4 linked regions of the Homo sapiens genome follow. The protein of the gene in region 3 interacts with the protein of the main gene of each other region in a pairwise test. Each region holds a gene or a part of one and is shown on either strand. Other genes may lie near its edges.

Region 1 (7,023 bases), on a different chromosome or scaffold from region 3:
ACTTTTGTATAAAATTACTTAAGATATCTGAATTTTTCAAATGTCGATTTTTTGTTGAAATGATATTTGAACAGATTGGATTAAATAAAATGTATTATTAAAATTAATTTCACCCATTGCTTTTTCCTTTATTTAATGTGGGCTACTTGGAAATGTAAAATTACACATGTAGCCCTCATTCTATTTATTTCTATCGGACAATACTGCTCCAGGGGTAGAGGAACAAAAGAATCCCAAAGATGATGTCCCCTTGAGTGAACAAGAAATCAAAATATCCTGGGAGAAGATAATATCACAGACATTTATTTATGTAGCTGACAGTTTCTCAAGACTTTGTACCAGGAACTTTGTTAGTCATTGAGGTTAACAGTGATTCAGAGATTTGCGTTTTTTTCTAGAAAAGCTGAAGGCATCAAGTAAAGGAAGAAGTCTGGGAGGTGAAAATTTGATCTAAGCAAGCAAAAACATGGTCTGAGAGATTGTGATCTTAATTTTAGTACCAGCTCTGCCACGTACAGGTGATCAAACATGAACAAACTACTTTAACCTCTTTGAGTCTTAGCAGAATCACCGGTTAGCACAAGTTTATCTCCTTCTGCTTCTAAATGTTAGGAGAAATTCTACTCTGGAAAAACCCAGCCACTTCGCCTTCTCTGAACCTGCCCCTTTGTTGGAGAAAATCATACTCCTGAGCAGGCTGACTCCGTCAAATTCAAATGGACTTTCAGCTCTGCTCCACAGTCTGACTGCTTTTCACGAGTCACCTTGCTTTCTCTAAGATAATTATCTCATAGATCTTCCTTTTTCCTCGAAGGCACTTGTTGCTTTCTCTTTTCCTTCCTCCAGCCATCAAACTCCATGGGGGACACATGCAGTCTAAGGGAAGCGCCTTTGTGTGCCCATCACCAAAGCTCCACACCCATCCCCATCAGCAACTGTCTTGCCCTACTCCCTTCCGGTTAAACTGTGGAAGCTCCAGGGACCAGTCTCCACCAGAGCTCAGGCCCTCTTCGCTTCCTGCCAACAGACTTGACTGTTTTGTTTATCTGTCTCTCCAGCTTTATCCATCTCTCCCTGGCCACGGGAGCACTTGCCATCCTTGGGGTCTCATTTCCCAGCCACTGTTCTCTGTCCATCATCTCCTTCATGGTTCACCTTCTTCATAATATCAACTTACAGGTTGTTTTCATGTCATCACCTCAGTCACCCTTCTGCAGGTCAATCAGACTAATGCCTCCAAGATGCCCCTGACATTTCTCTGATTTAAGCCTGTGAAGATCTGCACGTGGGCCTCAATTTCAACACCTCAACTGCACAGAACACAACCCACCTCTTCTTCTTCTGGTTTCTGTAACTTCATAGACTCTGGGTGTAGGAGGAGCGGTCTCTGAGCCCAGTTTCTCAATGTCTATCTCTGTCCTTTATCTTCTACCTAACATCTCATTTTAGATTCCTTTGTAGTCAGTCCTGAACTTTCTCTATTTCCTCACTAGGCAATCTCTTCAGCAACTTTAAAATCTACCTATATGATGGTCACTGTCAAATTTATAGGGTTGGGCCCTTGTCCCAGAGGAATTCCAAGCTCATGTGAAATTGTCTATTTGATGCTTCAACTTGGATGTCCACCTCTCCGACTCAACATGTCCAAACTGGAAAAATTCATCTCTCCTTCCAGTCTTCTTCACTCCGTCGTGGCTCTGTTATCTACCACACTGCTCGGCCTCGGGCAGAAGCCAGAACCTGCGGCATCATCCTTATATCCACCTCTTTCATCTAATCTTTTGGCAAATCCAGTCATTTCTAACATCAAAATCACCTGAGAACCTGCCCCTTTGCTCCACCTCTGCTGACGTCTCACTGGTATAAACCACCAACCTCCCCGCTTGGAGGATTCCTTCCATCTCCTCTGGTTTCACTTTCACATCTCAACGCACTATTTCTACTACAGCATCCCAAAGTGGGCTTTCTACTACAAGTTGCACAAAATACAATCATTTTTCCAGGCTCCAAAGAAACCCCGCATGACCCAGGCCTTGGTGCCTTCCCCAGTGTGGGCTTCCAGTCTGCGCAGCCCTTGCAGCTGTCACCACACTGGTCCCATTTCAGTTCCTGGAACACATTGGACTCTCCCTCAGCAGGGTCTTCCAGCCTGTAAGGAGCTTCCTTCCTCCTGCTCTTCACCTAACCAGCTCTGTCACTCTTCAGCTGTCAGTTTCAATGTTCCCTCCGTTGGGGAGATTCCCGGACCACAGAGTCTCAGTAGGCCACATGCTTACTCTCCACCTTGCACCTTGTTCACTATCTTTGTAGCACTTAATATAAATCGAAGCCATACATAGCTGTTTATTATCTGTTTCTCCAACTTCGCAGGACCACGTCTGTTTTGTGTTATGCTGTCATTGGAAGAATGCGGTATCTTCCATGAATCAGATACCCAGTGAGGATTTGTGGAATGAAAAAGGAAACGGTGGGAGAAGGAAGTCAAAAGATTTCATAATGAGTGACAGAGTGGAGTAATAGACATTGGAGACTACAGATGGCAGGATGGGAGGGAGGGAGGATTGAAAATTACCTATTGGGTGTAATATTCACTCTTCGGATGGTGGGTTCACTAGAAGCCCAGACTTCCCCACCAGGTAATATAGGCATAGAAGAAATCTGTACTTGTAGGCCAGGTGTGGTGGCTCATGCCTATAATCCCAGCACTTTGGAAGGCCAAGACAGGTGAATCACCTGAGGTCAGGAGTTTGAGACCAGCCTGGCCAACATGGTGAAACCGCATCTCTACTAAAAATACGAAAATTAGCCAGGCGTGGTGGCATATGCCCGTAATCCCAGCTACTCAGGAGGCTGAGGCAGGAGAATCTCTTGATCCTGGAAGGTGGAAGTTGCAGTGAACCAAGATGACACCACTGCACTCCAGCCTGGGTAAACAGAGTAAGATTCCATCTCAAAAAAAAAAAAAAAAAAAAAAAAATTGAAAAAAGAAATCTGCACTTGTACCTCCTAAATACATATAAATTTTTAAAAATTTAAAATTCATAATGATACACTGCCCATGTGCTAGCCCAGTTTCCCCCCTCCATTAGGTAAAATGTAATTTGTCTTCCGATTATACCTCAACGTTTACTCTAAAAGAAATATTTGCTTCTCAACATAAAATTATGCCTCTGTTATTATCTCTAACCTTGTAAATGCCATGTTGCTGTATCTTATCATCATTTGCCTTTATTTACTCTTTTACTGTCACTTCTAGCTGGGGGTGCCACAAGGATTATTCTCATATAATTAATCTAAACTATGCTTTCTGGCCACTTTCTATGCCATTTTTCTGGAAAAGTAGAGCAATGAAAATTCTTCCTGTATATAATTTGTGTATATTTAGGAGGTACAAGTGCAGATTTCTTTTTTTTTTTTCTTTTCTTTTTGAGATGGAGTCTCACTCTGTTGCCCAGACTGGAGTGCGGTGGCATGGTCCTGGTTCACTGCAACCTCCGCCTCCCGAATTCAAGAGATTCTCCTGCCTCAACCTCCTGAGTAGCTGGGATTACAGGCTTATGCCACCAGGCCTGGCTAATTTCTAATTCATCCTCTGGTTTGGGTAATTCAGTAAGAATCATTATTGAAGAGGAAAGAGTTTTGGGGAGATGGATGTTCACTGATAAATGGGAGGATGCAAGTTCTGGCATTATTCTGAAGAATTCGTGGGCTGTAACATTTAACGTTCTGATAAAAATCACTGCACGTCAAAGAGGAGTGTAAATACTCACCATGGTTTCTCGGCTATTGATAGCTGATCCTGTGCACTTTGCTATAACTTTATCAATACACTTCTTGTGAATTGCTGCATTGCATTCTGAAAAGAAGAAAAAAATCACAGCTTAAGATTTTCATAGCCTAAGGAATAACTAAATAAAAAGAATGATGGTAATGCAACCAAAACCCTCTTACTTACGTCGGCACTGGTAGCCCTGTTTGTTCAGGCCCCTGTAATAAAGCACACGCTGATTTATTTCAATGTTGGCATCAACATCAGCACCAACAGCATTTAAGAGATGGATGAGATCTCATAACCCCCTAAGATCACAGAGCAGTTTCTGATCAGCAGCCCTGTTGTATCATTTGCCAAGAGTATTAACAGAGTGTTTTTCATTTGAAGCTGCGTTTTAAAAAGTTTGATAATTAAATAAATGAGAACTGGCTGATTTATCATCCTTGTATTTTCCAAACATATAGAGATTAAAATGCATGAATGAAAATGCATGCATCACAGACTCTTCGTAGCACGTTTCCCTGTGCTAGATTTAAAAATTCATGGCCTCGCTGAGCTCACTACAGACGAACAAAGACATCTGTAACATTTTATTTCCTCTTTCTGAGCATCTGAGAATATTTGCAACCAACAAAGTCTCACATGCAGGACCGATTCCTGAGTGACATCCATGATTAGAGAGAAAGGAGGTTCAAGTGATTAGACGAAAGCAGGCTGATGAAAACCCGCCAAGTCGATCTGGCATGTGGATACCCTGGTTACACAGGAGCTGTGCTTTAACAGTTTCTGCAGTAGCCTAAAGGGAAGAGTATCCCTTAATAGGCTAGGATGCTGAGAGCCAGAAACAGGAGTTATTTCAAGTCTCCACTCTGTCATAGCCTTTGCTATGTGGTTACTGAGGTTTAAACTGATCTGTTTGATGGCTATTAAGATACCCAAGAGCCTCATAAGCATTTAAACCATTAGCTACAATGGCAGAGTGCTGCCTGCTGGAAAAAGTAGCACCAGCAGGGTTGGGCCATTAGGTGGGGGAAGTTTTGACTATAAAACTGGAAAACTGTTTGTAATAAAGATACCTTTCACTTCTGTTTCTTCCCACTTACCCCCAATAGCCCCCCCATTGAGGCAGAAACTAAAATCCCATGGGCATTTTTCCTGACTAGACCTGGCTTCCTCATGCACCTCTTTTATTGGATCACACCATTTGAACCTTCTCAGTTCAGGCAAGGTCCCTGACAACGCTGAGGTAGCATTTACTCCAGCACACCCCCCACAGTGGAGCATGCCAGCGTAGAGGATTAAGAAGACGCAACAAAATGCATAACCCGAAGCTTGGAGGGAGATGCCAAGTTACTGTACCAGACAAACTCGTGGCAGACAGAGCAAAATGTGGGCTGTGGGAAGAAGGTGGCAGTGAACTCGTGGCACTTGACGTGGTGGACCTTTGCCTGCTTGATGGCACCCCGGCGCTGATGCAAAGCAAAGAAGCCTTCCGTCTCAAATTCATTCATGTCCTTTGTGTCTACAGGAAGAGAGAGGGGAAGAAAGTGAAGTTCTGCAAAAGGACGACTCCTATTCTAAGCTGGGTCAGGAGGGGAGGGAGATGGGCAAGGGATGGAGGAGGACCAGCTCTGAGTACCTGCTGTAACATTCCAGGTACTCATTATGGTGGGTACCACACTAAGCATCTTTCCTCAAATTCTACAACACAGATTCATCATAGGGCATATTGTTAGAGGGTGAAAACAATGTTGGATTGCTGGCTCAATCCTTCGCTCCTCTTTGACTGGGCTGAGCGATATATCCTCTTCAAGTTTCAAAACCAGAGATTAGAACTTTGAAGGGATCTATCAACCTCTCTTTGTCACCATCAATGATGACTCAGTCAGAAAAGGCAGGAAGTGGCAAAGGCTTTCCTGTCTGTAATTCTAGAGAATCACATGGTTACTGACAGCCTCTTGGGAACAGCATTTCAGAGGTGCCAGGATGCTTTATAGCAGGTTGTTGGAGACATGCTGGAGTAGACTAGGGGGAGCTGACCAGGATTTTGTGTGAGGAGAAAGGAACTTTGGGACATTGTGTCCTGGTTCCTGATGTCCACAGTGATCAGACACACCAGCTGCCAACCATATTTACCAATGTGAAAAAGGCCAGAAAATTAATAGCTCACTGCATTTTTTTGGTGTCTAGGTAATCCTGTGCATTACCTAGTCATCAGCATCAAACCATCAGATTCAATCTATTCATTTTACTCTGGGCTCATAAATATTGGTGAAAGTGCTTTGGATAGTCACTGTTTACAGTGCCCTATACCTGAATGACATCTTTCCAAAGGGTTGAAAAACTAAGATAGTCAAATTATGAGAATGCTCAGGATGCCCTTGCTGAAGCCCAGGTCCTCATGAAACACCAAATTGTAAGGCAGTCATGGTTAAACAGCACAGTGGACACAGCAGGTGAGAGAGAATAACACAAGGAACAGTAAAGAAATAAAAATATCCACTGCTGTAACAAAAATGATACACAAATAAATATGTGAATAAATAAATAAGGATAATGAATTTAAATCCCAGAGTTATAATTTTGTAATAGCTTGAAGACTCTTGGATTACTTCTTCTATTTTGTTACAAATACAAAACATTGAGGTTTCATTTAAAAAGCAGGTTCATCATATTTCACAATGAGTTAATAATATTCAAACTAAATTTCTTCTATTGTGGCTAAGCAGTGGCAGTAGCCTGACAATGCGTTTGGGGCAAATTATCTTCCAAGATACCTTATTGTCCAATCCCTAACAGTGGCTAGATTAGAAACACTCTAGGTAGACAAAGGAGGAGCTGTGTGGGTAGAAACCTCCCCCAGGAATCCAGCCACATCCCAGGACACATTGTAGGACTGAAGTCTTTTCTGTAGTGTCCGCAGATTTGTTTTATGGCAACCCCAACTTCCAGACAAAAAGCATTTCCAGTAACCCTCTAACAGTTCCACAGATGGGACATAATACTTTGCCTAATACTTTAAGAGTAGGTAATTTTGGTCTTTTTACCTGGAACTAGGCTGGAAATAATAGATTTGGCTTGGTAAATGAGGGGTTAAATTAAGGATCACTGAGTTAATCACCTTCTTCCACAAGTTCTGGTCTAAATGTCCAAATCTATTTACAACTTGTGACTAGTATAGTAGGTCATTTGTTTATAACATGTGACTTGTTTCTATTTTGGTCCAGATGAAATAAAATAAAATAAAAATA
Region 2 (7,023 bases), on a different chromosome or scaffold from region 3:
AATTAAATTCCAATGTTCAAAACTGGATAGTGTGTATGGCAGGTGATTTGTACATACATGTTACTCTTCATCAAAATTGTTTTCCATCCCTGTGACATCAATACAAACTGCAGCTATTTGGTTCCAAACCATAGCAAGATACATTCTATTTTTTAAAATGTAAATGGTCATTTAAAATAGAAATAATTCTTTTAGACGTACTGCATTTTTACAAATGTGATTTTGGAAATATATTGCTCGCAAAGGGTAATTTTAAGAGAATTGTTGAGATTCTAATCCCATCTTTATGCATATTTTGGGGAGGCTTTTGAAAGAGCAAAAAGGTAAAAGATTTAGTTATCTTCTGAGACCACCTATAGTTCTTTACCTAAAGTTGTAGAAGAAAAACGTCAATGCACTGTTACTGTTTTCCAATGAAATTATTTTTCTTCCAACTAACCAAGCAGTACTTTTTAAATCCACTGCAGAAATGTACATTTCATTCCTGTTGTGAGCCGTTTTCAATTCTCCTCCCTCCCTCTCCCCGCAACAAAATTTGGAAAAATCTGTCACGTAGCATCCGCCCAACGTATCGCTTCGTTGTATTTTTTTTTTTTTTAATTTTGCATTATGACAAAAGTAAATTCTAGCATTACTCCAGGGAAACACTGGGAATGAACCTGGTAATGTTTCCTTTCCTTTCTCCCTTAGGCAAAGGAAGGGGAATTCTGTATTGTCGCTAAAATGAGCGCTCTTGGTGGAAAGGAATTCCTCACTTCGTACACGCTGTGGCTGTCCTTGAAAGTGCAGGCTCCGTAAAATGCCCGGCCGACTAAGGGGTTCCCTTTCCCCGGAGCCCCTGCCTCTTTCCATTCATTTTAGATCCTCAGTAAGGAAGGGCAGAGGTTGGTCTGTTTCTTCTTTTCAAGAGGGCACCGCGCTGCGCAGTTAACAGCCTGCGCCGCTCCGGGGAAACCCAAATGTCCCGCGATCCCATCGAGTCAAGGAGCAAAAGCTGTGATTGCTATCAGCTTTTTGTCGGGCTTCAAACTCGGGGTTTATCGGTTGAAACTCCTAGCTGAGCAGCTCCCACGACGCTGCCTCTGACGGCTAAACTCGGTGCATGCAAGGCTGGGACCAACTTTCCTTACTCGATAAAGGAACTTGACTCCCTCCTGGGAGACCGCAGCCCGAGTCCGACTCGCAGCCCCCGTCGCGGGGTTTAGGGTTTTAGGCAAGCGGCCCGAGACCCAGAGGAGCCTCCCTGGACCTTTCCGAGGGGCAAATCACCCGAGTCTGCTATTTCCCCTGGAGTCAAAAGCCTACTTTTGGAGCCGCCACACCCTCGTGCTCCCTCCCGCATCTCGGGGGTTCCGGGGGATGCACGTGGGGGTGGCCCCAGGAGCCCTGGGTGGGATCTCGGGGAAATGCATTGGAGACCAGGCGAAAAGGTTTCCCTTGCCCAGAACTTGCCTCTAGAGCGGGCCGCGTCCGAACCCGCAGGCAAAGGCGCTGCGGCCCCTGCGGGCGGGCGGGCGCGCGCGATGCACTCTTCTCAGGGACAGAGTTAGAAAGTGGACGTTTGGGCGGGGGGAGGGGGGGATTTACAACTGGAATTAGGCTTAAAAAAATCATTTTAAAAGAAAAATGTAGTAAGTTTTCTTTCCGAGACCCCAGGTCCATTAAAACAAAACTGAACTCGGGTGCTGGCAGTGCCCAGGGGGAGCGGAGGCGGAGAGGGTTGAGGCCGCGGGCCGCCCGCCTTAGCCCCCCGGAAGCCCGGGCTCCTGAAGCACAGATAGCCAAGAGCGGCCCGAGTCAAGCCCCAGGAACAGGGGCTTCGGGAAGAGACCCCGACCGGGCCGCACAGCGGGGAGGCCTGGTCCGAGAGTCCCCACCTGGCCGGCTGCGACTCTATATTGGAACCTCGGAAACGCGCCTTGGCCGTTCCAGCTCAAGTGGGCTCTGGGGCGGCTTCCTGTCTTTTATCCTCGAACGCTAGTTCTTCCCGGGCGACCCGAAGGCCACGAGGCGGGCCGCACAGCCCCGCGCCGTCGGGGGCGTTCCGGGAGCTCCGGGGACTGCGCGCGGCGTCCAGGGAGGGCGGCTGCTGCCCCCTGGCGTCCGCCAGAGCCCGCGGCGCGTCCCGACAGCTCCGCGCAGTCCGGGCCCGCCCGGGAAAGGCCTCCACGCCAGTCAACCCCGGCCCCCTCCTGCGTCCGGGCCCGCGGCAACGCCCGGGGACAGTCCCTGCGCGGCAGCGGCCACAGCACCCTAGCCCTGGGGGAGGGAGGAGCGGGCGTCAGGGGCCCCGTGAGGTCGGCGAGGGACCCCCGCGCCGGGGAGCTTAATTGAGGGGCTCCGCGGGGACCACAAAGCAGCCCGCGGTGGAACGGGGCCGGGATCCGGGGACTGGGTTGCAGCCCCGGGGTGGATGAGAGGCCCCGGGAGGTGCAGGGCCCGGCAGGGAGGGCGTGGAGGGACTCATGGTGACGGGAGCAGCCTCCGCTGGGAGGGAGCCCCGCCGGGCGGGGTCGGAGTTGGCAGCGCACGCCGGACCGGGGGCGGGGCCCTCCGAGCTCCGCGAAAATGCCCGCAGCACCGCGGGGACCGGCGCAGGGGGAAGCGGCCGCCCGCACGCGAAGCCGGGGTGGGTTCCGCACCTGGGGCCGCTCGAGCGCACGGGGGCGGGGAGAGGAGCGGGGGCCGCTTCCGGGGAGCCGGAGGGGAGACGCGGGGCCCGGGCAGGCTGTCCGGCTGCTGCGGGTGCCGGCGCTACAAGGCCCGGGAGCAAGCCGCGTGGCTGCTTTCAACTTTCCTTCCAGCCGCGCGTTCTTGGGGTCTTTCCTGACTAGGAAACTCTTCGCTGGCCGCTGACGCACGCAGCAAGTGAGACGCGCGGAGGGATCGAGCCGCGGCCCGGGCGCAGCGGTAAAAAACACCCATTACAGAAACCGACCCAAGGGAAGACGCTGAGAGCAAACGGCACGCGCGGACGCCGTCCGGCCTCATGCAAGGAATCAGCGCCGCTTCGCCGCAGCTGCCAGCCGGACGGTGCAGGAGCGCGGAGTGGCTCCCCCGGGCCCCGCGGCCAAATCGCACCCCCGCCCTGGAAGCGGAGGCCTGGCCCTGGGCGGCCGCGCAGGATCTGGGGCCGTCCGCGGGCTGCAGCCCGGTTCGGGAGCCTCGTGGCGGCCACTGCGCCTGCCTGCAGCGGCTCGCGGGGCCGGGCCTCTCCGGGTGCGGCGCGCCGGCCGGGTCCTCCTCGGGCCGGCGGGGCCTGCTTTCTTTTTCCAGGTCTCCGGACCGTGGCCACTCGCGGAGCCGCACAAGCCTGCGTGTGGCTGCGGAAAGGGGTCCGCACGCGGGCGGGGCCCCGGGCCAGCATGCAGGCTTGGATGCGGGGCGCGGGGGTGGCCTCCGACTCCCCGCCCGGGCTGCGTACAGTAGCGCGCGGCGCGGCGGCGGGGGCGCGCGGGCCAATTCCAGGAGCCGGCGGCGGCGAGCCGCGCCCTGGCTGATACCGGAAAGGCCTGTGATTGGCCGCCGGCCGCCCCTATGCAAACGAGCTGAGGGAATGGAATTCCTCCGGCCGGGCTTACAGTAAAAGCACGTTCATTTCCAGGCACTCTCATTCATAGAGCCAGCGGGCGCGGGCGGGACGGGCGCCCCGCGGCCGGACCCAGCCAGGGCACCACGCTGCCCGGCCCTGCGCCGCCAGGCACTTCTTTCCGGGGCTCCTAGGGACGCCAGAAGGAAGTCAACCTCTGCTGCTTCTCCTTGGCCTGCGTTGGACCTTCCTTTTTTTGTTGTTTTTTTTTGTTTTTCCCCTTTCTTCCTTTTGAATTAACTGGCTTCTTGGCTGGATGTTTTCAACTTCTTTCCTGGCTGCGAACTTTTCCCCAATTGTTTTCCTTTTACAACAGGGGGAGAAAGTGCTCTGTGGTCCGAGGCGAGCCGTGAAGTTGCGTGTGCGTGGCAGTGTGCGTGGCAGGATGTGCGTGCGTGTGTAACCCGAGCCGCCCGATCTGTTTCGATCTGCGCCGCGGAGCCCTCCCTCAAGGCCCGCTCCACCTGCTGCGGTTACGCGGCGCTCGTGGGTGTTCGTGCCTCGGAGCAGCTAACCGGCGGGTGCTGGGCGACGGTGGAGGAGTATCGTCTCGCTGCTGCCCGAGTCAGGGCTGAGTCACCCAGCTGATGTAGACAGTGGCTGCCTTCCGAAGAGTGCGTGTTTGCATGTGTGTGACTCTGCGGCTGCTCAACTCCCAACAAACCAGAGGACCAGCCACAAACTTAACCAACATCCCCAAACCCGAGTTCACAGATGTGGGAGAGCTGTAGAACCCTGAGTGTCATCGACTGGGCCTTCTTATGATTGTTGTTTTAAGATTAGCTGAAGATCTCTGAAACGCTGAATTTTCTGCACTGAGCGTTTTGACAGAATTCATTGAGAGAACAGAGAACATGACAAGTACTTCTAGCTCAGCACTGCTCCAACTACTGAAGCTGATTTTCAAGGCTACTTAAAAAAATCTGCAGCGTACATTAATGGATTTCTGTTGTGTTTAAATTCTCCACAGATTGTATTGTAAATATTTTATGAAGTAGAGCATATGTATATATTTATATATACGTGCACATACATTAGTAGCACTACCTTTGGAAGTCTCAGCTCTTGCTTTTCGGGACTGAAGCCAGTTTTGCATGATAAAAGTGGCCTTGTTACGGGAGATAATTGTGTTCTGTTGGGACTTTAGACAAAACTCACCTGCAAAAAACTGACAGGCATTAACTACTGGAACTTCCAAATAATGTGTTTGCTGATCGTTTTACTCTTCGCATAAATATTTTAGGAAGTGTATGAGAATTTTGCCTTCAGGAACTTTTCTAACAGCCAAAGACAGAACTTAACCTCTGCAAGCAAGATTCGTGGAAGATAGTCTCCACTTTTTAATGCACTAAGCAATCGGTTGCTAGGAGCCCATCCTGGGTCAGAGGCCGATCCGCAGAACCAGAACGTTTTCCCCTCCTGGACTGTTAGTAACTTAGTCTCCCTCCTCCCCTAACCACCCCCGCCCCCCCCCACCCCCCGCAGTAATAAAGGCCCCTGAACGTGTATGTTGGTCTCCCGGGAGCTGCTTGCTGAAGATCCGCGCCCCTGTCGCCGTCTGGTAGGAGCTGTTTGCAGGGTCCTAACTCAATCGGCTTGTTGTGATGCGTATCCCCGTAGATGCCAGCACGAGCCGCCGCTTCACGCCGCCTTCCACCGCGCTGAGCCCAGGCAAGATGAGCGAGGCGTTGCCGCTGGGCGCCCCGGACGCCGGCGCTGCCCTGGCCGGCAAGCTGAGGAGCGGCGACCGCAGCATGGTGGAGGTGCTGGCCGACCACCCGGGCGAGCTGGTGCGCACCGACAGCCCCAACTTCCTCTGCTCCGTGCTGCCTACGCACTGGCGCTGCAACAAGACCCTGCCCATCGCTTTCAAGGTACTGGCCCGGAGAGGGTGGTGGGAGGACAGGCGGAGGCCGGCGAGGCCGGGGGAGATCCGCGAGGGCAGCGGCCAGGCGGGCGGGGCCGGATTCTGGAAAGGGGCCCCCGCAGCCCCGGGTCGGTCTTCCTAGCTTGGGATGTGGGGGATGCTGTGTTGCCGTGGCGACCCTCGGGAGGCACTCGTCTCAGCTTTCTGGGGCGGCCTCCCAGGAGGGCTGAAAACATCAGGGTGTCCCCAAAGATATCCACTGGGAGCCGGTCGGGACCTCCCTGGCAGGGGCCTTAGCTTTGATACAAAGTAGGAAAAGTTATAACCCAGCCCGGCAGAGACAGCCCGTCTGCTAACTTACTGCTGCCCCTACCGCTGGATTAACACCCAAACCATTTTGTCTTCCTCAGATGAAAGGATCAGGAAATAAAATAGTAAGACTTTTCTGCCTTCAAGTCAGTGAAAAGAAACTAACTAGGGAAACTGTCAGGGATTTTTTTTCCCCTTCTCTAACCGCCCTATAGGAATTAGCATGTCCAAAGTCCACAGCGGGCGTAGTTAAGTTTGCAAAAGTTTTCTGAAGAGTTCTCTGAGCTTTTTAGCCTGCTCCTGCCAGAAGCCGCAAGTATCGAATCCTGTTTCTTTTCCCGGAACCGTTCTGAATGCTATCATCAGCTCACCTAGATTAAGCCAGGGGTAGCGAAAGGTGACGAGGCTGTTTTCGGAGAGCCAGGGGTCCCAGCGGCCCGCTTTCCTGCTAGAGGAGGGGGCGGCGCGTAGCCGGAGACTTCAGCGCGGCGGCTCCAAAGATCTCCCTTCACTTTTCACCCCTGATCATCCCCAAAGCTTTGAGCTGCCTTTAAAAACCTTGACCTTCAACAGGGGTATGAAAACAACCCCAGGCGTTTCTAAACAATCACCCTACTACACTAGCAGCAAGCAGTAGGAATTTAATTTCTGCAGTGGAGATTCTGTTTTGTCTTTGGTGGGTTTGAAAAGATGCGACTAAGTAAAATCAGTGCGGGTCATTTCCTGTTCGTTTAAAGGGCGAATCAAGGCAGGTGGTTCCAAGTGTAAAGATAAGCTACTAAAAAAAAAGTTTAAATAATTGTCCCCTTTAAAGGGAGATTAATTTAATATAAGCTTTTTATAGTTCCAAGCCTCAGCTGGGTCTTGATCTTATTACAACGACGAATATTCACTTTTTAAAAAAGTATTGTTGCGGTTATTTTTAAGCTTTATACAGTTTCCACACTTAGATTGTGATTTCTAAAACAAAACGAAATTTGCAGTTGGCTGTGTCTATAGATTGGCCTCTTTTTCCACTCACTTTTCTAAAAGCAGTTTTTTTTGTTTGTTTTGTTTTTTAGTGGGGGTGGAAATGAGGAGAAGGAACGAAGGAACGTGGTGGCTTGCTTGACTCTTTTTTCCCTCCCTCCGTTTACTTAGATTTGGGTTTGGGAGACCATTTTACTTTTAAATCATTCTAACCCTTTGCCTAAATGGACTCAGCGATGACTCTTTAGGGCACCCGCATTGAGAGGGGACCCAACAGGGTTGGGCCATG
Region 3 (7,400 bases):
GACCGGCCCCTCTGAATAGGATCTCCACTCCGCCGGAAAGGGGCGGAAGCCGAGGAAGAGGATGCACACCCGGGTCTTTGCTTTCCCCCTTTTTCGCTGAGAGGCCTGCAGTTACGCTGCGGTGTGGTCCTGGGCGATCTGCCGCGCCCAAAGCGAGTTTCCAGGAAAGATAGGGGTGGAGAGAAAGAGGCAGGGCAAGAGGGAGGGAGAGAGAGAAATGGGGGTCAATGGCTGGGAATTACCTCCTGTCCCCGACCAACCAGTCCAGGGAATCGCAAACAGCTTTCCGCCCCCAACCTGCAGGTGTTTGGAGCCTTTCCTCTACCCCCTCCTCCCCCCACCCGCCTTAAAAAACCCTATACATGACCAATCAGGAATAGCTATTTAGTCCAACAGCAACAACAACCCCTCCCGACAGGCTGTCTGGAACATTTTCGAACCCTCCAACTGGGATCGGTCTGGTTCAGTGTTTGTTTTCTAAGCAGGGAGGTGTCTACGCGGTTGCCTCCTCAGCCAGGTCTCCGGCTGCCGCTACACCGCGAAGGGATAGTCCCGGGCCTGGATGGGCGGAGGTCCGTGTTGGGAAAGGCGAATAGTCTTCAGACTCTGGTCGGTGGGACAGAACCTTGAAGTCCCCCCCACCTCATTCTCTCTCTGACCCCCATCCACCCACCTCCAGCCCAAAGCGAAACCAGAACCCAATTCCAGGGGCTGTACTTTCCTACAGAAATGGAGTTGGGAAGGGGGCTTGGAGAGAGATATCTGATCTGTTCAGGTCCTTTCTCGTCTCCCTACTGATTAAGAGAAAGAAGAAAGAGAGAGGAAGAGAGAGACAGAAAAAGAAAAGGAAATAAAGACCAACAAAGGGGGAAAGAAAGAAACAAAGGGGAAAAGTCCCCCACCTTCCCCTCCACCACCCCTACGAAATGATTTTCGATTTTTCGGGGTTTAGACAGAGTAAGGGAGAATTCTAATGATTTGTTACAGCAATAAACAAGGTAAAAGGAAAGGAGGTAAAAACAAACCCGACACTACTTTCAAGGATGTAGCAGGATTGAGCTTGCTTTTATTTTTTCCTAGTGGATTTTGTTTAATTTGTTTTGCCTAAATCGTCAGGCTTATGATCACACATCGAAGTCTTGGATTAACTGCGAAGGCCTCCTTCTATTTGCCGCGGCTTTGGTGGACATATAGGAATAATTCTTCCCTGGATTGCAATACAATGCGGAAGATTTTCTTTCTCCTCTTCTAATCCAAAAGAGGGGAGGGGAGGAAAGAAGAGGGGAATCCATCCATTCCCGGCGTGTTCGCGGGGGGTTAATGTTGCGTGTTCGCTGGGGGTTAATGTTTGCCTTATGACCAAGTCTCTGTGTCCGTGCCTCTCTCCATTTTCTCTTCCTACCTCAAACCCAGCAACTTAGAAAACGGCTGTAGCGGAAAAAAACCCGCTGCTTTGTTCTCCCGCCAAAGGAGCCAAAAGGGACAAACTGCTGCGCTCTGGGATGATTATTTTAATTAAAATAGATGTTAATGATGACGATTGTGATGGTGATGGCATTAGCAATTACAATAATTGACAAAACAAAATTCTTTCAACCCGAGCTAGGGCCCCACTAACCCGGTCCCTCCCAGAGCCCGGATTCGGCCTCGGTCTCGGATGCGACGGGTATCAGACCCAAGCGGCAACGTCGCTCACCCGAAGAGGGGGCGGGAAAATCTTCCCAGGAGGTGATCCCGAATGTCCCCACCCGAGGCTCGAGGCCTGGTGAATGTGCCCATTGTCCTTTCGGGGCCTCTCCCTTGGAGCCCGGCGGCCGCACCCACGAAACTGACCAGAAATGGATGAAGCCGGAGTGCAGCGGGAACCGAAGCCCGCAGCTACCGGCTCGAAGGCGCCGGCCTCGGCGAGCGCTGCTCAGCTTCAAGCCTGGAGGAGCCTCCCACTCACCAACGAACCCCTCAAACACCTAGGCACAGGCGGGCCTCCGGGCAGAGCAGCCGCCGACCGGGCGCTGTCCGCCCACCCAAGCCAACAACTGGCTCCCGAATACATCATAATTTGGAATAAAATGTGAAATCCCGCTCCCCGCCCCCATGCCGCCGCCCCCACCAGCGCCTCGATCTCTCGCTCGCCCTCCCCCCACTCCCGCCCCCAGCGATTTGCAAACGCACCTCTAAAGGACACAGGCACACAGGCATACAACTCAGTGCGGACAGGACCACACAGGGTCCAGCCCCACAGAAGGGCAGCAAACAAACACCACCTAGCACTGCCCCAGAAGCCGACTTGGTCAGCCCCGCACACTGCCCAACAGGACACAACGAAATCAGTCAAACGCAGCGGCTCACGGACACACAATCCAGCACAGTCGGGATCACACACGCCCGACATAACGACGACACCACCCAAACACAGTCGCAGGGGCCACACACCCCCACACACAGAATCAGATCCCTGCTGAGAACACCAACGGAGCACAATCGTACGCAACGAAGAAAACGCAGAAGGGCCTCGAAGGGTCCACATCTACACACCCCAACCGCGCAGGCACACCACACTCGGACACAGAGCCTGTCGCCAAGAAGACCACACTTAGAAGCAGCCAACGCCGCCCACAGTTCTCATGAACGCACTCTCACAATCCCACCGCATGCACACAACCACGAAGAAGAAATGAAAACCAACCACAGCCTCGCGCATTTCTGTATATTGCGTAAGGAAAAGGGGGAAGGAAGGAAGAGAGTCTCCGAGGCGGGAGGGGCGGCGGCAGCCGGGGCGGGGGCGTCCGTGGAAAATGCCCCCCCACCGCCCCCCCCGGCCATCGAAAGGAACCGAGGGAAAGGGAGCGAAGACCTCTTTTGCGGACGTGGGGAAAAAGAGGAGGAAATTGATGAAGAATTCGGTGGGAGGCCGCGGGTTGCTTTTCCCCTAGAAAAAGGCCAGAATGCTCACGTTTTTCCGCTACGGGGGTACGCGTGTGGCCATTTTGAGGCCCGGTCCTGAGCGGCGGCGGCCCGGCCCCTCCCGCGGCCCCCGCTCCCCCGCCCGCCCCGCGCCCGCCCGGCCCCTCCACCGACGCGCTGTAATCCCACTCACGTTCCAGGCCTCGTTAGCATGGGCCGAGGCGCGCCGGGGCCGTGTGCGCCGCAGAGATAAGGCACTGCCGCGGGTCCGCCCGCCCCCGATAAGCGCCTCGGCCATTATGGGCCAAATGATTCATTTTAATTTGGCAATTTCACCGGAGGGAGTGGGGACTGGTTGAGCGGCGCTAGGACCGGCTCCGGAACGCGCTGCGGGGAGCGTTGGACGCGCTGTCTAGGACCCAGCAGATCCAGCCCCCATCTCTAATCCCAAGGCCTCTCAGGAACCCCAGCTTCCCACAACCTCAGTCCCTTAACCTTTCAGACACCTTTCTTCAGCGACTCTCACCCCAGCACTCTGTCCCTACCTCTGAAGACCACCATGATACCAAAATCGTCACCTCCCAGGGCTTCTTTCTTATTCTTCCTCCAGTGTCCCAGACACCCAGATTTCAATGGGCAGTCTCCCTATCCCAGAAAGCTCCCCAGCCCTTCCCTACCTCTTCACCCCCTTCTAAAATAGAGCCGGTAACTCAAATCCATGGGCTCTACGGCGGCCTGGCAGAACCCCTGTCAATAGGGACATAAAATGCCTATTCTGCTAGGTTTCAGGCTGAGCCCAGAGCCCAGGAACACTGCTCCCCACATGGTATTTAAAAAAAAAAAAAAAGTTTAATCTAGCGACTGTAACACTATTCTAGGCATTCTGCAAATACTAATCTACTCTTCACAAACAGTCCTGAGAAGCTGGATCCTTAATTTACAGAAGAGAAAACTGAGGCACAGAAAGTCAAAGTAACTTTTCGAATGATACATAGCTAGTGCTTGGTGGAGTCTGCCTTGGAAGGAAATTTGACACGGAGTCTTCTCTGCGGCTCAGCTGATGAAGAGGGGCAGCCAAAACCTAGCCAGGGAAAGGGACCTGGGCTCAACTCATTGCAGAGACCAGGGTCTTTACTGTGGGGTAGAAATCTGAGTTCAGTGCCAGCTGGATGATGCGCTCAGCCCACGGAGGGTCTCTGGGTTCATTCTTTCATGGTGGAGTGGAAAGAACACATGTTCGAATTTTAGTCACTGATCTCTGAACCTCAGTTTTCTCATTTGTAAAATGGGGAGATAATGTCGACGTCACAAAGTTATGAGAACTAACTTATATGACCTTTAAAAGGTGGTGGTGAGGATAATAATGTATGGAACGTCACTCAGTCCACAGCCCAGGAAAACATCATATGCACTTGCATGGGAGTTCTGGTTATCATCATAGAGAAAGAAATTAAGACACAGAGAGATGTGACTTAGCCAAAACTTACAGTAACCCAAAGGAAAAGCCAGGACCCAAACTTTGGTGTCCAATTCCCAGTCCACAACTCTACTTTCCATGCCAGGCTGATTTGTCCTTCTAGTGTCTCTGCTTTTGAGCTTTTTTTGGAGCCTGAGAACTGGGGGAAAACCCCTACTCTGGTAACAAACTGAGTCCCAGTCAAAGACTGAGCAGAGAGCATGGCCCCAGTCTGGGATCTGGCTTCTCCTTGGTCATCAGGTTGACCCTCTGAGAAGATACAGTTAATTCAGTGCCGCCTGTCCCCTCTGTTCCTCCTGTGCTCTCTGAAGGAAGTCAGGCTGTCATGGGGATACAGATAACTCTCACAGAATCCCACATCCTAAGAAAAAGTCTAGTTCCCCCCTACCATAAGGCCTTTGCTTGGCTCCATCACTTATTAGAAAATGAGAGTCATATAATTCTGAGTCTGAAACACAACTCTGCCATTCCTGGGCTGTGGGACCCTTAGAGAAGTGATTTCATGTCTCTGAGCCACTGTAAAAACAGGCTAGCCATTCCCATATGGGAGAGCCCAGGTGGGGACTGCTTCTCTGAGAAAATGAGGCCTGGACTGAGATCTAAGAGTGAAATTTGGGGGTGCGAAGAAGGGGGGTGGGGAGAAGCATCAGTATCCAGAACCTTCCAGGTGGGCTGAGGAAACAGCTGGACCAAGGGCTAGAACAGAAGGGTGGTAGGTTCGTGAAAAGAATAGAAAAGTGTCCAGTATGGCTGGAGCATGCTTGTGGACAAGTTAAAAGATTTTTTGACATTTTTTTGTTTGTTTGGTTTGAAGGTGGGGGTGGTACCTTGTATAGAATAAGATTTGCATTTCTAGAAAGTTCTTTGGATGAAGTGTGGAGGGGGAAGGACTCTGGGAGGCCAGTTGTGGAGCCAATGCAGTGGTTAGGGGAAGCGGATTAGAGCTTGGACCACTGTGCTGGCAGAAGAGATGACAAGAGGCAAGTGAAGATGACATGTATTTGGGGTATAAAACTGGGTTTATAATAATTGGATTTGGGCCAGGCATGGTGGCTCATGCCTCTAATCCCAGCACTTTGGGAGGCCCAGGCAGGCGGGTCACGAGGTCAAGAGATCGAGACCATCCTGGCCAACATGATGAAACCCTGTCTCCACTAAAAATACAAAAATTAGCTGGGTGTGGCAGCGCACGCCTGTAGTCTCAGCTACTCAGGAGGCTGAGGCAGGAGAATCACCTGAACCCAGGAGGCAGAGGTTGCAGTGAGCCGAGATCGCGACACTGCACTCCAGCCTGGCGACAGAGCGAGACTCTGTCTCAAACAAACAAACAAAAAAAGAATTGGGTTTGGGGGGATGAGGGAGAGGAAGGAATCCAGGAAAACCCCTGGGTTTCTGGCTGTCCTGCAGAGCTAGTGGTGGTTATTCCTGGAGATGGGGAACCTGGAGGCTGAGGGGACATGGGGAGGGCTTATATATTTGGTTTTGAACTCCTTAAGTTTAGATGCCTTTGAGACACCTGCAGACTGTTGGATTATTTTACAGGGCATTAAATGTCCCCAGCCAGCACCTCCAAGGAAAGTGTCCTTTCCTGTGGTGAAGGAATATGGACAGGTGGAAAGGCGTTTCTCAGCCCTGTGGCAGAGGGTGTGCCCAGGCCTCTGTCTGTGGAGCGAGGAGGTGACGTTCACCAACCCTCCAATTCCACACATTTGTTCTCTGCCAAGCTCCAGATTCTGACAGTCAGGCAGCCACTCCCGACCTCATCCACCAAAGCCCTGCCAGGGGCTGGGGTCTCATGACGTCTACATCTGCCCCCTCCCCTGTTTCCGATGGTCAGTGGAAAAACGGAAGCTGTGCGCTAAGCGGGGCGCTGCCTGAAATAGCATCTGGTGCCTGTCGGTCAGCGAGTTGTCCGAGCGTCCACGAGAGAGTGACAGGCCGGGGCCAGCCAGGAAATGCCACCCCTCCTCCACCCGCCCCAAACGGAGGCCCCAGTCGGGCAGGAAACCCGGAGCGCCTGGGGTGGGGGTGGCGAGGAGGGAGGGGAGGTTGAGACCCAGACTGGTAAGTCTGGAGTCTGGAACTGGGGCAGCAAGAGCAGGGGACAAGAACAGGCTAGCTAGGCTCTGGCCCTGAGGCCGTTGTTCCCCACCACCAAAGGTTGGGTTCTCCCTAAACCCCAAAGCCAAGCCTCTTACCATTTTTCAAGTGTTTCTGCCTGCCCTCTCTGAGTACTGGACTATCTCTGAGCTTCTCCCCCGAGCTTCTTCTCCGGAAAGATGCCATGCATGCACTCTGATGAGCAGCCGAGTTTATTTTTAACAAATCTACACTGCAGTTACTGTGTGACAAGTACTGTCCTAGGCACTTTGTAAGTATTAATTCAGTTAATCCTTGCAAGAACCTAATGAAGTAGGGACTACTCCATTTTGTAGGTAGCACAGAGAGGTTGAGCAACTTGCAGAGAACACCCAGCAGGTAAGTGGTGGAGGCAAAATTCACACCTAGGGCAGTCTGGCTTCAGGCCACAGTGCTTCGAAAGCAGCAAAGCAAGCACAATGGTCAGGCAGACCTGAGCTCCTATCCCTGCTCCCCTAGTTGCCAGCTGTATGATACCAGGCAAATTACTTAATCTCTGAGGTTCACTTTCCTTATTTGCAGAAGAGAGGTGCTCATTTTCCATACATAATACTGTTTATATAAGGATTATTTTTAATGAGGAAAATTTCAATTTGAGGAAATGTCATTATTTCCCTCTTCCACTTTCAAAGGACTATTCTCTCCATTTTTGCCTCTGTCTCTTGCCCTGGAAGAACCCCTACCCCATCAGTAAGCAGGCCTCAAGAATTCCGAGCTTGGGAGTCACGTCTGTGCTTCCAAACCCCAACGCTGCTGTCAGAATTCTCAGGGATGGAAGGAACTTCACTCTCAGTGGCTCTCAAAGTGGATGGTCAGCATCACCGAGGAACCTGTTAGAAAAGCAAATTCTCAGGCCTCACCCCAGGCCTACTACTACTAC
Region 4 (7,023 bases), on a different chromosome or scaffold from region 3:
TTCTTCCCATATTGTTAGTTGGGGGTAAGGATGGGTCACTGTGAATGCAAATTAATTCCTAATCAAATTTTGATTTTGGTTTGTTTCTGTTTCATATGTATTTTCAGGAAAATTATTATTATTATCATTATTTTAGGATTCACCATGTCCTCATTCTCCCAGCCAAGAATATCTCTTATTGAGTGTTCTTGAGGAAGGGTGGATGTACCCCCTTTTACTTATTGTTTTAGTAATAATAATTTAGCTGCAATTTACTAAGCACTGAGGACACTCTAAATACTGTACTGGGATTCTGTGTGGTGTAGTTCACTTTGGTTCTTCCAACAGTCCTGTGTTCCTTTTGCAAAGGGAGAAACTGACTCTGAGAGCTTAACTCCTCTCCTCTGTGCTATGTCAGCTGTTGGGCTACAGAATCTGATTGGGTCTAGATTTGGTTCAGTAGCCTCAAAGCTTACTTTTTTTTTTCTTCTTTTTTTTTTTTTTTTTGAGATGGAGTCTTGCTCTTGTCACCCAGGCTGGAGTGCAGTGGCACAATCTCAGCTCACTGCAGCCTCTGCCTCCTGGGTTCAGGCGATTCTTCTGCCCCAGCCTTCCGAGTAGTTGGGATTACAGGCGTGAGCCACCATGCCTGGCTAATTTTGAATTTTCAGTAGGAACAGGGTTTCACCATGTTGATCAGGCTGCTCTCGAACTCCTAACCTCAGGTGATCCAGCTGCCTCAGCCTCCCAAAGTGCTGGGATTACAGGGGTGAGCCACTGTGTCTGGCCTTTTTTTTTTTTTTTTTTTTTTAAATATAATGCCCTGTTGCCCAGGCTGGAGTGAATGCTTACTGTAGCCTCTAACTGTTGACCTCACGCAGTCCTCTCACCTCAGGCTCACAAAGCGTTGGGATTAGAGGCATGAGCCACTATGCCCCACTGCATTTTCCCTTGAACTATACTGTCTTCCTAAAGATATTCTGATTTTGTTTTATAACATTTTCTCTGAATAATTTCCTTCTTTTGAGATTTGTGTTCAGGATACCAAGTGTATAGAGTTAATTTTTTTTCATTTCATCAGTGTTGTTTTTTAAAGTAGATTCAATTCATGACAGCATATGATTTTGTTTATCCTGCTTACTGGCATATTCCCAGGGTCTAGATTGGTACTGGGTACATAGCAAGTGCTTAATAAATATTTGCAAAGTAGTAAAATGTTATATAAAACTTCCATAACACTCACCAAGTAATTTTCTCTGCCCCTCAAACATGAGGCTGGTTTAAGTTTTCCTTTTGAACGTGGAAAGGACTGCCATGGTTCTTCTTGAGCAACTTTGGTAGTAAGTTATCAGGAATTTACGTAGAGAGACTTTCAGAATTTATAGTGCTTACATATGCTTTGTTTTGTTTTTCTTTTTTCGCTTTTAGGATGATCGCTGCAAGATCCCTTTATTCATGCTAATGTCCTTTATGCCGGCCTCTGCTGTCCCCCCATTCAGGTATTTGCTCTGTTTTTTGGTACGGTAGAAAAGTAGGAATCCTGTCCATTGTTGTGCTGAATTATTAATTCATGTCAGCAGACCATAACATTTAGCTTTCAGCTCACTGTGGCCTCTTCCTTCTGCCCTTCCCTCTCCCTGTGGTAGGGAAAATATCAGGATGTGATTTTCTTTTTTTTTTTTTTTTTATTGATCATTCTTGGGTGTTTCTCACAGAGGGGGATTTGGCAGGGTCACAGGACAATAGTGGAGGGAAGGTCAGCAGATAAACAAGTGAACAAAGGTCTCTGGTTTTCCTAGGCAGAGGACCCTGCGGCCTTCCGCAGCGTTTGTGTCCCTGGGTACTTGAGATTAGGGAGTGGTGATGACTCTTAACGAGCATGCTGCCTTCAAGCATCTGTTTAACAAAGCACATCTTGCACCGCCCTTAATCCATTTAACTCTGAGTGGACACAGCACATGTTTCAGAGAGCACAGGGTTGGGGGTAAGGTCACAGATCAACAGGATCCCAAGGCAGAAGAATTTTTCTTAGTACAGGACAAAATGAAAAGTCTCCCATGTCTACTTCTTTCTACAGAGACACGGCAACCATCCAATTTCTCAATCTTTTCCCCACCTTTCCCGCCTCTCCATTCCACAAAACCGCCATTGTCATCATGGCTTGTTCTCAATGAGCTGTTGAGTACACCTCCCAGACGGGGTGGTGGCCAGGCAGAGGGGCTCCTCACTTCCCAGTAGGGGCGGCCAGGCAGAGGCACCCCTCACCTCCCGGACGGGGCGGCTGGCCGGGTGGGGGGCTGACCCCCCCACCTCCCTCAAGGATGTGATTTTCAATGGGCCCTAAGTTAGTACGTGATGAAAGAAGAGACTGCATGGAACTGAAACTGTTACTCCACTTTAAGTCTGGGGTTACTCTTAGCACCTGGTGTGGGAGGTTCTGGAGCACAAGGTCACCGTTGGTCACATGTGGCCCTGAGCACCTGGGCTTTGGCTATTTGAGCTGAGATGTGCTGTGAGTACAAAATACATATGGAGTCAGCCTTGAGGCAAAAAGAAGAGTGTGAAATATTGATTACATGTTAAAATGATTTTGGATAGATTAGATTAAATAAGATTATGTTATTGAAATTAGTTTTACCTGTTTCTCTTTGTGTTTTCAAATGTGGGTACTAGAAAATTTTTAATTACATTTGTGGCTTTTGTGTCTCATAATATTTTTCATTAGAGCTCTACAATGTTGGTGATTATCTCAATAAAAATTATTTTTATTCATATTTGTGGAAGAAAAAGGAATATTTTGATGCTAAACAAAAATTGTTCTTCAAAAGTAGAAACTCTTGCTCTAGAATCTGACAGATGGCACAGAAACAGAAGGATGAGGGCTTTGTGTGGCTGCTGTGCCCTGCTTCTTCAGTGTCCAGAGCTGGTCTCAGGTCTTGTGGTGGGATGCAGCTGAGCAGCAATTGTGGGAAACTGTATTTATTCCTGCATTGGAGAGCATGGAAGTGCTAATATAATAACAAGGGCTTATGCACCGTCAGATTTTAGCTTCTTGGTTTTCCTCACCTTTTGACAAAGTTGGGGAGTCTCCGTTGAAATACTCAGTCCGATTTTCCGTCTGACATTTTCAGCTGTGGTGTGATTTCCACGCTGAGAAGCCGGGAGGAGGGCGCTGTGGACAAGAGCTACTGCACTTTGTTGGATTGCCTCTGCTCCTGGGGGCAGGTGGGGCACATTCTGGAGCTTGTTGACAACTGGCTGCCCACAGAGCATGCCCAGGCCAAGGTAGGTTGACATCATGTTTCCTTAAAATTAGGTGAGTGAGGATAACTGTGTATTAGAAATTACATGCTTTTCTAGGGACGTGTGTTTTCATTATCAGTTTCTCTCTCTCTTCTTTCAGAGCAACACAGCTTCTAAAGGTAGGGTGCAGATCCATGACACACGCCCAGTCAAACCTGAATTGGCATTGGTCTACATTGAGTATCTGCTGACTCATCCAAAGAACCGCGAGTGCTTGCTCTCTGCTCCTCGGAAGAAACTTAACCATCTTTTGAAAGCCCTTGAAACGTCAAAGGTAACTCTGTGCCCTGAGAGTTGAGTGGTTTCCTATGATTGTGGGGGTGACAAATCAAAGTGTGAAGCTTTCATATTTACAGTGCTATACAAGTGTTCTGGCTGGAACAGAATTGAGAGTGATCATGTCACCTCATTCAGTTGGTACAAGGCATGGAGCCTGGCCAGGGCAAGGTTGGGAGTCAAGTCCCAGTTGACACGTGTTCAGAAATCTCACATTTGTGTTGCACCTGCTAGGGCGCTAGGACTCAGGAGGATGGCCCCAGTGTCTCAGAACACACCCTCTGCAGGAGATGTGTCACATACCCTTTCATGTGGACACTCACTCCCTGCAGTCCTTGGCAGTTTTTTCTGGGAATGTTTGGAGAGCATTTCCTGGGAACCCATCATGCTCCCAGCTGTCCCACGGAGGCCGTCATCTCTTCCTCTCCTCCAGGAGCCAGCCCTCTGAACACCCTGTTACGCTGCCCTCAAGTGTGACTGTACCAGAAGCAAAGCCCCAGCAGAGTGGAGCCAGGCAGATGGGGAGGACGGGGCCTGGTCATGAGGCAGGGAGGGGACGGGTGGTGCTGCGTGCAGGGCAAGGGCTGTGGACGGTGAGCTGAGGCTGCTCACCTGGCTGTACATTTTCCCATACCACCCAGCACCTCATGTCCGGGTGCAGAGTCAGCAGACACTGGGCTTCACCAGAGCGGGGGTCTTTTCAGCTCGCCTGAGGATCAGGTGCTTCCCATTGTTCTTGCTGTACGGGGTGTGGTGGTGCCTTGTCAGTCAGCATGTGGCCCTTGGGTTTTTTCTATTACAGGCAGATCTGGAGTCACTTCTGCAGACACCGGGTGGGAAGCCTCGTGGCTTCAGTGAAGCAGCTGCCCCGCGAGCCTTTGGTCTCCACTGTCGCCTGAGCATCCATCTTCAGCACAAGGTGTGCCTGCTCCTGGCCCTCTATTAGGATGATACACAGTGCTCTTTTTGTTACTGATTTATCTTCTTGTTTTTGGACAGTTCTGCTCAGAAGGAAAGGTGTATTTGTCCATGTTGGAAGACACTGGCTTTTGGTTAGAAAGCAAAATTTTATCTTTTATTCAAGATCAAGAAGAAGACTACCTGAAGCTTCATAGGGTCATTTATCAGCAAATTATCCAGGTTAGAAGTCTTAAGACACAGAAAACTTTCTCTTTACCAAGTTTGTTATGTTTCAGGATTTCATTTTCTACTTTAGAGTGGTAATTTTAGACATTAGTGTTATTCTTAAAAACTTACAGGGACATTTATCTAACTTTCTAGTTTATCTTTTTGCAAAGCGTAAACTGCATACTTTCAGTGTAATTTTATACATTACATATAAGAGGTGTTCGATTATGTTTGTGGAATTACATAAAATATGTCTCTAGATTTCTTACAAAAACAAGAATTAATGTATCTTTATGAAAATTCCTTTATAAAACATCTTTATAAAAATCTGCTTTATAAGATAACTAGCACATGGATAGGAGAAGCTTTGTGAGGCTGGATTTACTCCCTTTTTAAAAATGGCCTTTGTTGCTAAGCTGTGTCTGTCTCTTACAGACCTACCTGACTGTGTGTAAAGATGTTGTTATGGTAGGCCTTGGTGACCATCAGTTTCAGATGCAACTCTTACAGCGGAGTCTTGGAATCATGCAAACAGGTACAGTCAGGGCTGTTTTAGAGCAATAAATACTCAGAACCAGTCCTTCCCTCCCTCCCTCCTTTACTGTGTAGCTCAGAACTCTCACTTTTAAGTGACTGATTATAATGCAACCTGGCATATCCCAAAAAAGGGATTTGTTAGGTGGTTCAGCCCGGAAATTAAGAGGTGTTTCTGTGTCAGACATGACTACATCCAGAGTTTGTGACAGGGTCCTTGGGATTCTGCCTGTCCTTGTGGTCAGCTTTGTTGCCAGGCTGACTTTCCCTGTGGATTGGGCTAGTGGCTATTTCCTGGCATCTGTGTGGGAAACCATCACCTTTTTGCTCTGCTCTGGTCATGTGCTCCTGTGGATGGGGGCGTGAGTCAGACATTATTGGGTGGTACCCCACCAGGACCCCCGGAAGTTGCTGTTACCACAGGGAAAGGGTTAGCACAGGGTGACCCATGGCAACAGTGAGTGAGAGGACAGCCCTCGAATCACATCAGATGATGACGGGAAAGGGTGTGGGGCCAGGGGGAGTGCAGCTGGGGTCATTCCATATCTCCTTGGCCTTCTGATCACAGTCTGGTAAAGAAGAGTACTGCTGAGCTGGGACCCTGGTCCCTGGCCCCTGACGCCTAGCCCCTAGCCCCTAGCTCCTAGCCCCTACTCCCTAACCCCTAACGGCCAGCCTCCCCCTCAGCCGCTTCTGTGGTGTAGCTGACTGCTGTGTAAACCTGTTTCTGGATGGTTTTTAAGTAGTATCCCAATATCCCAGTGCTGCATTTGATTCTCACTGAGATCTGTAAAAGCCTCAACATTTGATGTTGACATTTCTTTAAGCCTAGTTATTTGCTAGAAGAGATTGAAAATGATAACATTTAGTAAATTCAACATTAAGTTTTGAAAATTAGATTAAGTTGGTTGTCCAATTTCTAGTGGATCCATCTGTAGTCTCTTTCCCATAGCCTTAAATATCTTCATGGCAGATTCCAGAGGGGTCTGTGTGTGTGGACACCCCCAGTGTATCTGTCTTCATGACGTTGCAACTGAAGTAGATGCTAGGAGAACACTGGAGCCAGGATACTGGGCAGTGTCTTAGTTAATCTTTAATTATAAGCAAAATCATCCATCATTTGTTTAACAGATCTAAAGTTTAAGAGTAAATATTAAATAGACCAATATTATTTGCTTCAGCTTTTTTGTTTAATTATTATTATTATTTTTTTTTTTATTTTTTTTTTTTTGAGACCAAGTCTTTCTCTGTTGCCCAGGCTGGAGTGGAGTGCAGTGGTGCGACCTTGGCTCACTGCAACCTCCACCTCTAGGTTCAAGCAATTCTCATGCCTCAGCCTCCTGAGTAGCTGGGATTACAGGTGCCCACCACCATGCCTGGCTAATTTTTGTATTTTTAGTAGAGGTGAGGTTTCACTGTCTTGGCCAGGCTGGTCTCAAACTCAAGTGATCCACCCACCTTGGCCTTTCAAGGTGCTGGGATTACAGGCGTGAGCCACCATACCCAGCCTGTTTAATTCTTTATAATTCACTTCTGTTGTGAAAACAGCATTTTATACTTAAGCTTAATGATTGCAACAGTCAAAATTATTTATTTTTTAAACTTCACTTATCATTTAGGAATTATTTTCCCGTAAGGACCAAATCTACTTTTATTATTTAAAAAATTTACTTTTTGGAGGAGCTAATTATAACTAGAATTCTAGATCTCCAGTGTAGCCAGTTTCATTGTATAGGTATATCTGTTCTCTTAAAAATAAAACAGAACCAACAACACTGTTCTCTAATTCAGGTGTTGAGGGAA

Evidence for each region.
Region 1: the proteins of TAL1 (region 3) and PRKCQ interact in a two-hybrid assay, tested with the Homo sapiens proteins (one study listed by BioGRID).
Region 2: the proteins of TAL1 (region 3) and RUNX1 interact in binary tests that used the Homo sapiens proteins (3 or more experiments, as listed by UniProt).
Region 4: the proteins of TAL1 (region 3) and NCAPG2 interact in a two-hybrid assay, tested with the Homo sapiens proteins (one study listed by BioGRID).

Annotation. Positions count from the first base shown.
Region 1 is NC_000010.11:6,493,265-6,500,287, forward strand, and holds part of PRKCQ (protein kinase C theta type), read right to left. Parts: intron 5,295-7,023; coding exon 5,132-5,294; intron 3,988-5,131; coding exon 3,956-3,987; intron 3,857-3,955; coding exon 3,771-3,856; intron 113-3,770; exon of another isoform or gene 1-112. UniProt on the Homo sapiens protein: Calcium-independent, phospholipid- and diacylglycerol (DAG)-dependent serine/threonine-protein kinase that mediates non-redundant functions in T-cell receptor (TCR) signaling, including T-cells activation, proliferation, differentiation and survival, by mediating activation of multiple transcription factors such as NF-kappa-B, JUN, NFATC1 and NFATC2.
Region 2 is NC_000021.9:34,885,283-34,892,305, reverse strand, and holds part of RUNX1 (runt-related transcription factor 1), read left to right. Parts: intron 1-2,224; exon of another isoform or gene 2,225-2,413; coding exon of another isoform or gene 2,414-2,629; intron 2,630-2,834; coding exon of another isoform or gene 2,835-3,500; exon of another isoform or gene 3,501-5,193; coding exon of another isoform or gene 5,194-5,209; coding exon 5,210-5,463; intron 5,464-7,023.
Region 3 is NC_000001.11:47,229,214-47,236,613, forward strand, and holds the start of TAL1 (T-cell acute lymphocytic leukemia protein 1), read right to left. Parts: upstream 3,013-7,400; 5' UTR 2,954-3,012; intron 2,677-2,953; exon of another isoform or gene 2,635-2,676; intron 2,503-2,634; exon of another isoform or gene 2,444-2,502; intron 2,050-2,443; exon of another isoform or gene 1,834-2,049; intron 1,829-1,833; exon of another isoform or gene 1,697-1,828; intron 559-1,696; exon of another isoform or gene 441-558; intron 139-440; 5' UTR 1-138. UniProt on the Homo sapiens protein: Implicated in the genesis of hemopoietic malignancies. It may play an important role in hemopoietic differentiation. Serves as a positive regulator of erythroid differentiation.
Region 4 is NC_000007.14:158,652,793-158,659,815, reverse strand, and holds part of NCAPG2 (condensin-2 complex subunit G2), read left to right. Parts: intron 1-1,407; coding exon 1,408-1,478; intron 1,479-3,110; coding exon 3,111-3,264; intron 3,265-3,382; coding exon 3,383-3,556; intron 3,557-4,360; coding exon 4,361-4,477; intron 4,478-4,557; coding exon 4,558-4,698; intron 4,699-5,026; exon of another isoform or gene 5,027-5,121; coding exon 5,122-5,221; intron 5,222-7,023. UniProt on the Homo sapiens protein: Regulatory subunit of the condensin-2 complex, a complex which establishes mitotic chromosome architecture and is involved in physical rigidity of the chromatid axis.